Linked DNA regions of Homo sapiens: region 2 is linked to region 1. Evidence: fine-mapped expression QTL. A gene starts in region 1. The other region holds a variant in brackets. All regions are shown on one strand. Distances are between the middles of the regions. Region 1 holds the start of ARHGAP5 (Rho GTPase activating protein 5). Region 2 holds the start of LINC02313 (long intergenic non-protein coding RNA 2313).

What was found. PIP is the estimated chance that this variant, and not a neighbour inherited with it, causes the effect.
Region 2: its variant is fine-mapped to the expression of ARHGAP5 in whole blood (INTERVAL, PIP 0.91).

Annotation. Positions count from the first base shown.
Region 1 is chr14:32,074,360-32,079,736 of GRCh38, forward strand. It overlaps ARHGAP5 (Rho GTPase activating protein 5), which reads left to right and starts at 2,945. Exons shown (of 7, transcript NM_001030055.2): 1 at 2,945-3,076. ARHGAP5-AS1 (ARHGAP5 antisense RNA 1 (head to head)) reads right to left here and starts at 2,340. Exons shown (of 1, transcript NR_027263.1): 1 at 1,060-2,340. RefSeq lists silencers at 2,366-2,625, 2,986-3,205, 3,004-3,298.
Region 2 is chr14:31,941,394-31,946,770 of GRCh38, forward strand. LINC02313 (long intergenic non-protein coding RNA 2313) reads left to right here and starts at 3,460. Exons shown (of 2, transcript NR_146544.1): 1 at 3,460-3,715. RefSeq lists an enhancer at 2,742-3,941. The variant G/A (reference allele first, on the strand shown) is at 3,100.

The sequences.
Region 1 (5,377 bases):
GCATTATTAGCCACAGAATTGTGGCCCCCATTTCAGATTTTTATTGATACAGAAAACTCTATTTTTTGAGAAGAGCAAATTACATACAATAACTTATTTGTACTGGTAAACACCTTTAGACTATTAGTATTAATAAGAAACGAAGTCCTAAATTTCCAGGCTCCCTAAATCAAGATAAAGAACTGAAAATAATGTCGACTATGAAAATCATTGTTTGGAAATCGTGATCTTTTTTTTTTTTTTAACGTCTTCTGGTGTCTTCATTATAAGAAAATAAATGAGATTTCAAGTCTTCCCTGCCTCCAGTATCATGTCCTATAACTGAACATTACACCTTTTTAACGTTTTCTTTAGAAGCCCTGATTTATTTGGCTTTGGTTTATGTTGATACATGTCCATGATTATTAAAATTTCTGATTATTTAGGACATAATTTTTAAGGTATCTTTAGGGTGTACACTCTATAGTACTTAACATCTTATTCAGGTTATGACTTTGAACTGCATCATTATAACACTAAAAAGCAACCTTGGCTAACTTCAGTACCTTACGTAACATAAGAAATAAAGAATAACTTGAACTTAAAATACTTTTTATATGTTTACTTCGGGTATTCTTAAGGGCTTTCAGTACAAAGATAAAAACATGCGTTGGAATGCATCAACATTCCAACTTACATAAGTGGTGTAGATACCTATGGCATTAGTACCACATTTTGATGGTTGGACCACCCACCAAATTCCCTTCTCTCCTTTTTTACTTCTTTTTCTTTCTGTTTGCTTTCCTTGCAAGTTTCCTTCCGCATCCTTCTTTCCCACCTACAATTTGTAACTGAAAGAAAGAAGTAGCTACAGACCTTACCTAACCTACTCTTAACCTACTTGGTAGGTAGGGTTCAGATGCAAGGGAGTGGCTCGAATAAAGCATTTTAGTTATGCCTTTTAGAAATTAGGGAGCAAGAGATATATAGAAAAATTAGAAATGTCTCTTCTACCTTTATTAAGTCTACCTTTGAGAAATATGAAGGGCAGGAAGACGGAAAAACGAACAGAACTTCTGCTGGAATATTGTGACAAATTTACTGACAAATATTTTCTAATAGATTTTTACCAACAGGCAGTTTTTGTTTTCTTTACTGACAGACCGTAAATGTACTTCTGGTTGGCAGCAGCTGCATCATTATAACACAAAAGCAACCTTGGCTAACTTCAGTACCTTATGTAACATAAGAAATAAAGAATAACTTGAATTTAAAATACTTTTTATATGTTTACTAACATTAAACTATTTTCAATGCAGGAAATAAATATTTCCCCAAAGAGGAATCCCCCCTCAATTACTTTCTTTCAGACTTAACAAATTGGAGTAGATGTGGTTTTGCTCATTCTTTTATCTGCTGGCAACTATTTTAAGTCTCCTGTGCAAGGCAGATTCCGATGACCTCGGGAAAGTCACAGGACCTCAGTTTCTTCAATGGTAAAAGCAAAGGCAGTGGTTTCTACCGTCCTTTCTCACTGCACCATTCAGCGTCAGTGCCCTCATGAGAAACACACCCAAAGCCCAGTGTGCTCTACCCCAAAACTTGTGAAATTTCTAGAGTCTCAAAAAAGTGAATATGTTTAAGGCAGTATAATAAAAGCCAGGTGGACGACAGTTCCTAAAGTTAGGCTGGTAGTGGCGTGAACAGGGGTCTTTTGGGCCACCCTGAGACCCGCCCCACGGGGCTTCTCGATCCACGTCTTGGCTTCTCGCTCCACTTTCACAGAACGTACTGAATCAGGGGCCTGCATCCCCGTGCCGTGCCGAGCCGACGGAGAAATGGACTCCTCTTCTCGCTCCTGTGGAGTTTCGTCTTCTGGGTGAGTGTGGCACCGGGTCCTGGGCGGGTGATGTCTGTAGTTGGCGAGCGATCCTCAGCCAGAAAACTGGCTGCGCACACAGGCGCAGACACGCGAACATGTTCCTGCGAACGAGCTTGGGCGCATGTTTTCCTCCCTTGCTTTCTTTAATGCTCAGAGACCATAAGGGGATTTATCGAGAAGCATTCGGTGCCCATGCCCGGTTTGGAACCGCGAGCACAATATCTGGTTCCTTTGCAGTACGGTGGTTTGCTCTTGAGTTACGACCAGAAACCGGAACAGAAGGAAAGGGAGAAGCAGGGGAGGTTCGGGGACGACGGCGCTCCGGGCAGTAAGGCAGTAGCTTCCAAAGCGTGGAGGATGGGACTGAGGAGGAGCAGAATACGGAGAAAGAGGGAAGCTGAGGAAAAATACTCACGCCAATGGGTAAAAGGGAAAAGGTGAGAAGGAATGGAGTAGGGGAGGGAACCAATGGTGGGAGAGGCGGAGGAAGAAGGGGGAGGGGTAGAAGCCAATGGGGGAGTGGAGGGGAGGGAGAAGCAGAGGGGAGGAGGGAGCGGGGACGCGAGCGAGGACGCGGCCCCGCGCGCTCGTCCCCCTCCCTCCGACTGGATAGCTCGCGCCTTCCCAGGCTCCCGGGAGACGAGGGCAGGGGCGGGGCCGTGCCGGGTGCGCGGCGCGGGAGGCGTCGCGAGGTGAAGGGGCGGGGACGGGGGATTGTGGGGAGGGCAGCGCGGGTTCGCGCGCGCGCGCGCGTCCCGTCCAGGCTGCGCCGCCGCGCCGCCGCTCCGCCCCCGGTCGGGTGTGTGGCTGCGCGCGCCGGGAGAGATGCTGAGGTAAAGTTCGGGAGAGAGGGAGAGAAATCCGTCAGCGCGAGGGAGCCCGAGTGGCCGCCATTACTGAGCCCGGCGCGGCGGCGGGCGCTGGGGAAGGGGGGAGGGACGGGCCGCCGCTGGTGGCGGGGAGGGAGGGAGGGAGGGTGGGTGAGCTGGCTGCGGGAGCCGTGGGGCTCAGGGTTTCGGGGCGTGTGTGTCGGGGAGGGCGGGGGGAGGTGGCTGAAGGGACGCGCCGCTCGGTGAGCGCGCCGAGGAAGAGAGGCGAGCGGAGAGTGGAGGAGGAGGCGGCGGCGGCGGGAGCGGTCCCCAGGAATGTCGCTGCCGCCGCCACCGCCGGGGCCGCTGCCGTTGAGGAGGAGACGGAGGAGACCGACGTTGTTAGGTAGGACCTTGCGGACCCCGCTCCTCCAAGCCTGCCTGCCCCCTCCCGGACGGGGACCCTCCTGCGGCTAGCTGCCCCGCTCGGTCGCCGCTGCCGGTTGTAACCAGTTGAAGGGGCTGGGGCCCCGCGGCCGCCGAGGGGAGCCTGGCGCTGCGCTCGGTTTTCGCAGGCCGGGCGGGCAGCAGCTGCAGCGTTAGGGATACGTTCGGCGTGAAGGGCAGAGAGGCCGGGGGAGGGGGTGCTTTCTCCACAGGTGACGGGGCCAGGGTCGGCGGAGGCCTGATGCTGGCCGGGGATCGCCGGCCCCGCCAGGCGTCCGCTCTCGCCCGCCGCCTCACTTGCTCGAGTCTCGGGTGGTCCGTCGAGAGGGGAGGTGGCGGTGTCCGTTGGCCGGGTTGCTGCTGTTAACGAGTTCCACCTGGAAAGGGTACACGGGGCGGGTGCAGATTCGCGGAAACACAGTCTCGGTTGCAAACTTAAACGCCTTGTAGGGGGGATCGGCCCTTTCACTTTCCCTCATCTCCTCGACTCCTCCCTGGGTTCTCTTCACCAATTTTCCATCTGCTTTGAAGCTTGGAGTAAGATATGAGAAGTTGCACTGCGCATCCAGAGCCCAGAGTCCTATGGGCTGACTGCGACTGGGTTGAGGCTTTGATACTGAGTTTTCGCTAGAATAACCTCCAGATTCTTCCTCTCTTTCCACTAAAGAAAAGTATCGGGGTGGGGGTGGGGAGCCGCGCGGGAGCGCGCGCGCACTTATCCACACAGAAATACTCCCTCTCACCCTCCCTCTTCAGCGTTATTAGAAATGCAAGAGAGCTGGAGGCTCGGGGTGTAGCTGAGGTTGAAAGGTGCACGGAAGTAAGGGCAAACTGTTATTAGGCCGTTTAGTAAAATCCCGAAAAAGTTGTAGGGGAGACGCTTATACTTCTACCATGTGATAGAAATTCGGATTTGGCCATCGCTTAATAAATGGGAATTCAAATATTTTGAGATAGAGCAAGATAGGCATATAGATGGGTTTGTGCTTACGTTTTAAGTTTAAATTCTTATCGATCATTTATTTTTTCCTTTGTGATAGGCAGGAAACTGAATTTTTTTTTAAATGTTCAGGTGTAAAACAGCAAAATGCTTCGCTGTATTTACTAGTACTTGCTTATGTTGCTTTCTACAGGTAGGGGCGGGGGGCGAGTTTGTCAATTCCACTTAAATCCAGAACCAGTATTCAGTTAGAATGTTAGGTGGTGTTTATCCGCATGAAGGATCTCGTTCACTTCATGGGAGCTTGCTCTACATTTCCACTTAAAATGGTTCTCCTAACAAAAATTTCATCTAGATGCAGCGATTAGACATTTGGAATAATGTTTGGTTTAAAAATACGTTAATGAAACCTTTTGCTGTCAATTCTAGTTTATTTGTACTGTAATACGATAAAACGGTATTCTTATTCAGTGTTTGTAGATAAGTATTACTAACCGTCTAGGTAACCTACTAGATAGTTTCTTGAGTAAGATTTTGCTTTCATTTTAAATTCCTTTCTCATTTTTTGCTTTCATCTATCCTTTGTATACTAATTGACCTCCATTACCTTTATCTGTAGTACAAAGAGCGGTAAGTATGTGTCACCAAAAACTTGCAAAGACACTGGAGCAATTTATGACTAAACGCACTGGAGTGAAAGGCTGCGCATACCTATGCTTGTAACTTTCAAGAAATAGCACTATTGATCTAATTGACTTAAAGCAGAATCAGACGGTACAGATGATTAAATAACTATTGATTTGGTTGTCTTGTGTAGGCTGTGTTTTTAAACCTAGATCAACATGTCTTATTTTGCCATTCTTTGTACATTAATTATTAAGAGTACTGGGGAGTGAGGTGGGTTACACTTTGATGTAAGAATTGCGGCAGAATTCTGTTATCTTTATGAGTTTTGTAGTGTCCCTCCCCATTTAAACGACCTTAGCAATTTTTAAAATGTGTTGCAAAATTATTACCTTAATTCTGTCACAAGATACTTATCCTAAATGTTTTGAAAACCGTCTCCCCTTCTTATTTGTGTTTGAAAAGCATATTAGCACAGTCATTTTTTTGGAGAGTTATTTTGACCTTGAAAGTTAAGATTATTTAAGGAATGAATATTGTATTTGCATTCCTTTTTTGGATTTGAAGTAGCGATAATAAGTTTTCTAACTCACTTTTTTTAATTGAAGAAAAAGTTAGGTCTCATAAAGACTTTACTAAACTTTACCAACATTGGCAGGATGTAAGATGAGTGTTGGCCTTTAGTGGTCACTTCTT
Region 2 (5,377 bases), 130 kb before region 1:
ATTATGTCCTGTTCTCATGGTCAGAAATCTGAATGCTTCAATATACTGCATTTTGCTTTTCTTTCATAGCCAAATAAAAGAGAAAGACCACAGTTATACATAGTGTGTCAGTCTGGCTCACTCAGATTATGTTTGTAAAATTCCTTTTTCTATAGAGCTAATATTTACTCAGCACTGATGTCCCAGGCACCATATGGTATCCCAGGGACCATACTAAGCCCTTTCTATGGATGGTCTCTCTTAAGACTCAGAATAACCTTTTGTTTATAAACTGTCACATAGGAGGGTCAAACAACTCAGCCTGGTTCATACTGCCATCAAAAAGCAAAGCTGAGCTTCGAACCCAGGCTGTGTGTGCAAATCCCTGAGCTTTCAAACCACTGTGCATGCTGTCTCCCAACTCTTTGTTTTTTCTGTGCCTTTCTCTAGCCAGGAGGTTTTTCTCCACCTGCCCATTTATCTTCCATAATTCTTGCTCTTGGGACAGATGATTTCCAAGGTCCCTTCAAGTATTGAAATTCCATGACTGATTAAAAATTATAATGTATGCAGTTTGATTAATTTGCACTAATGCCTGAGTTCATTCACAATGTTAATTTCTTTACAAGGTTCCAACAGTTTTTTAACTTACAGATCTCCTTCTGATGTTAAAGGAATCATGCTGCTTTTCCTATAATAATATTTAAGTCCCCAGTTTTAAAAACATAAGGTTTAAAAATATATCTGAAAGGATTTTACCATGCATGCAACACACCAATTTTCCATATGGACCAAAATAGTCTTTTTAAGACCCTGTTCTCTCAGTTGTCTTTCCCAAGTCTCACAGATGCAGTGCTAATTGCATGCAGCTTCAGGTCCTTTATAACATGAGGTAACAATTTCAGTGTCTTGGGCTTGAATGCTGCATTTGTTAGACATGCCAGGCCTGGAATTGGTGTCAGCTCGTCAGGATGCTGAATCCACATGGAGAGCAACTCATCTGAACGTTGGGAAGCTTCCTGGAGAAACTCCTGTTGTGCTCCTCTCAGGCATGGCGTGAGAGCCAGTGGTGTGACTGGTTCCTTAGCTAGGATGCATCTTGGTCAGACTTGGCAGCACTGGGTGATGGCTCTTTGGGACCAGTGCAGGTATTTGAGTCTCTCTAGTCAAGTTGTACTTGTTGAAGAATGATTCCAGAAGTGACGTTTATTCACAGACCTACTACTTGGGCTACTTGGGCTAGCTCCAAGTGTCTGAGTGGCTCGGCGGCTGAAGGCAGACTGCACTTGGGACACATCTAAAATTCATTCTGACTGGATTGAGAAAACAAGGAGACCAAAAAGAAAAGAAGTGGCAGGATTCTGCAATCACATCTGTAACTGAGGAGCCACGGGATATAACTTTGGAGAATATCTTGACCTGATCTTGCTTTGCAGCTTGTCTGTAGTTCTAGTCTTTAGAGTCGCGGAAGCCTGAGTTCCCACCAAGCTCAGCTCTTAATGGCTGTGTGATAATGAAGACGTCACTTGATCTTCCTGAGCCTCAGTTTCTTCATCTGTAAATTGGGATGAGATACCTCCCTCATGGGTCTGTTGTGAGGACAACATGTGATGATCCTGCCAAAGCTCTCTAGGCACTCTGTGCTTAGCTGTGTGGCCAATGCACAGTCAGCAGCGACACGATGCTATTTTTACTGCCTTCTTTCCCTCTTTCCCCAAGAGGACACACTCCTCTAGAAAAATAAGGTTCATGCAAACCTGCACTTTAAGAGCATTTATACAGATGTGCACGATGCAGTGCATGTGTCTTGATGGGGCTTTGTTAAATTGAATTTTAAAATTGTGTTTTAAATATACTTAGGGAAGTACAGAAAGGTACCCCAGAACAGGTTGTTTTATAAAGACAACAATAATTTCTGAATTATTTTCATTTCAGCTTTTTATATACTGTGTAGTCACAAAATGAGAGACCCTCCCCCACTCACCCCACCCTCACAGCTCCCCAGAGGAACAATAGCCATGAGCAAACAGTGCTTGCCTCCTGACCTTCGGGTGTTTCTCCTAAAGGCTAGCTCATTTAAGGGCAGCAGTCAGGGGCTTGCTACTCTTCGCAGCCCTGTTTCTTTTCTTGTGATGAGAAGAAACAAGCCCAGGCTGACAGCTGGCCAAGACTTGAACTAGAATGTTGAAGTTGAAAAGTCAAAATGGGTCTGTGTCAAAGGACTAGCAGAGGGGAAGGGACTGTCCTCCGGGGAGCTGAGGAGTGAGGATGGTCCTCACCTCGATCCAGCGATCAAATTCCCCAAGTAAATCCATGTAAAACATGAACTGTGGCCAGCACTTGTTAAGCAAGGAATATTAAAAATCATTGTCATTACTGCTGCTATTATTGTTACAGGCTTGTTCCAAGACTCTGGGTTTTGGCTCAGCTTGTCTAAATGGTCTTCCATCTTAAGGAATCAAGGGGTAGATTTTGGAACCACTAGCTCCATAGCCAAAGAAGGAGCAATCCAGCAACTTAGGCATTGATTCCGCAAGCCGTCCCAGAGCCTCTGTGTAGTCCTTACTTTCCCTAAATTGCCATGACTAGCTGGCTCAAGTTAGGCCTTTCTAATTTACCTGGACCGTTGCTGTCTCCTGTGCACGGCTGCGGGGATGAGCACCTTGTTGTGCGTTCCTCCGCTGGGCTGACGGAAATGGTTTGCAGCCAGACTGCTACGCCACGCGGTCTGGCATTTAGTCCTCAGAAATCTGATTTAGAGAACGTATACATTGCATCACAATCTAGATTTCAGAGGAAAGTTTTGGATAGAATAACCCAGACCCAAGTCTGGGTAATTTAAAGCCTGGGTGAAATGGGGCAGAAAGAGCCCAGAATATACAGGTCTGAATCTTGGCTGGGGTGATGTGGAAGACTGGAGGCGCCAGACGGCTGGCCTCCCTCCAAGTGTTTACCATGCTGGTGCCATGGGGCTGGGGCTGGGCAGTCCATGTGCTCATTCTTCCCTTCTCTTCTCCTCCTCCTCCCCCTCCATCTCTCCTCCTCCTCCTCATGTTTTCTATAGGCTAGAGAAACTCAGGAACTACTGACCCACAGGGAAGGCAAGCGGAGATATGAGAC[G/A]GAGGAATCAAACGCTGCCCTGGTGGAGGACGCTGTGGGTTTACAGTGGATGATTTCCTCTGCCTATGAGATAAAAGGGCTGGCTCTGTACTTTGAACCCCAGCCTCACCCACCTCTGCCTGGGTGTGGCTCTTACTCTCTGGAAGACTTACTCAGGGGAGAGGACAGGACAGTGTGAGGCTTGAATCTCCAGGAAATAGAGTCTGTGGGCAGCCATTGACTCCGAGTCAATGAGAACAAGGTGTGCTGTTTCCTCTGTGCTGTTTCTTCCCTGCCCCACTCCCCGCCCCTTTGTCCTATGGTGCCCAGGCTGCCTGCACTGCCCAGATACCACAGGCCTTGCCAGGGACCTCCTGAGAGGTTTCTGAGGCTTGCAGCCAGTGGTCCCGTTAGTCTGCACGTCTCCGAGTTGCCCTCCCAGAGGAGAAAGCATATGCTGCTGGGACCGACTGCAGCTCCTCATGGATGCACCTGCCACCAGAAAATTGTTGTTCAGTCTGGGATTGCTTTCTCTTCCCAAAGCACAATCTCACATGCAGTCATGAGCCCAGTCCAGCCTCTGGGACAGAAGATTTCGTGCTTTTATAAACCAACAGCACTGCAGGTGCTGCACAAGGTAAGTGTCTCCCTTATTTCTTTCCCTCCCCGGAAGCCTCTGTATCAAACTAGGAGTTACCTTAATAGGGTCAAAGGAGGGTGTGGCTGTTTCACTTCCTGTTGTCAGCAGCCAAGTGTGCCTGAGGACAGAGGGTGGTGGGCAGGCATCCATTATGTGTAGGGAGGCAGGTATTGTACTGCTCTGGAACACACTGAGGAAGGGGGGTGCTCTGGCTTCCCTGACACCACCTCCCTGGTCAGGCTGCCGCAAGGCACCCAGATGTCAGTTGTCTTCCCACAACCTAATCATTCACAGCTGCTCCAGGGCCACACTTAGGATCTCTTTCCAGCGGTCCTCTTAGTCTGCCCCAGGGGCATGGCAAAGGAGGGCCTTTCATCCAGGGATCTCACACTCACAGAGACTTCACATTTGGATTTTTAAAAATTTATCTCTGAAGATATGCTAATAAGACTGAAAAGATGGAAATGATCATCAGCTTTAAACTTATGCCTGATTTTGGTACCAGGCCCATGAATTTTTAAGATTAATCCTGCCATTATCCCGTGAATAGGATGGTTATATTACCCTGTGCGTTTTTTTTTTAAAGCTTACACGTGTTAAAGCCTTAATTTATTAAATGTAAACTTCTAAAATATAGTATATCACAATTTTTGAAACCCTATTTGGGGATTTCTTCATTTTAATATACCTGAAGCCTCAGATAATGGGCGTGTCCCTGGTCTTTGTCCTCCAAGCGGCCCATTGGCCACTCCCCTCTTGATGGACTGTGGAGAGAAGCTGTTCCCTTTCCACGTGGTCATTTCAACTTCAGAAAAATCTCAGGTGCAATTGCCTGTTTCATTACAGCAGCTAGCCTATAATGAAAGAGGCCTTCGAAGCTTAGGCATGCCCAGTTTGGCCCCTTTCTTCATTTTACACACTGTTTTCTCCTCCCACAGGAAGGCTTCTCTCTACGGGGCTCAAAGCTACAGGCTCTCCACCATAGGGAAAATGGCCGACTAATATTCTTGAGTTCTTTACCCTTAGGCAATGGGGCTCAACTGTGACTGCACATTGGAATCAGTGGAGAGTTTTCCAAACATCCATCCGATGCCTGGGTTCTACCCCCACAGAACCTGATTTACTTGACCTGGGGTGTGGCCTGGGCATTGGAATTTTTTAAAGCACCCCACATGATTTTAATACACTACAAAGTTTCAGAAACAGTGCCCTAAGACCCTGGTTCTCAAACATTAGAATTCATCAGAATAATGTCCTCGTGGGGAGGGTCTTGTTAAAGCATAGATTGCTGGGCACAGTTTCTGATTCAGAGTTTCTGGATGGTACCTGGTAATCTGCATTTCTAATGAGTTCCCAGGTGATGCGATGCTGCTGTTCTGGGGATCATGTATTTACAACAGTTGTGCTAAAAGAAAGACAGTTAGAGTGGTGGGTTGGGAGGAGAAATGTGAGTGAATGCATGAAAATGTAGTTATTTCTTATTCTCAACCTCTGCAGTTGGCTTCAGAGTCAGGGACACCCCTAAATTACAGCAGTTACAGAGTATATTGGTCACCAAAGCTGCCACTGTGCAGAGACCCAAGCTAGGATAGAGCTGAGCCCCAGCAGCTGGACCCTGGTTGGTGGGGTAAGGCATGGTCTGAAACAGTCTGGGGCTAC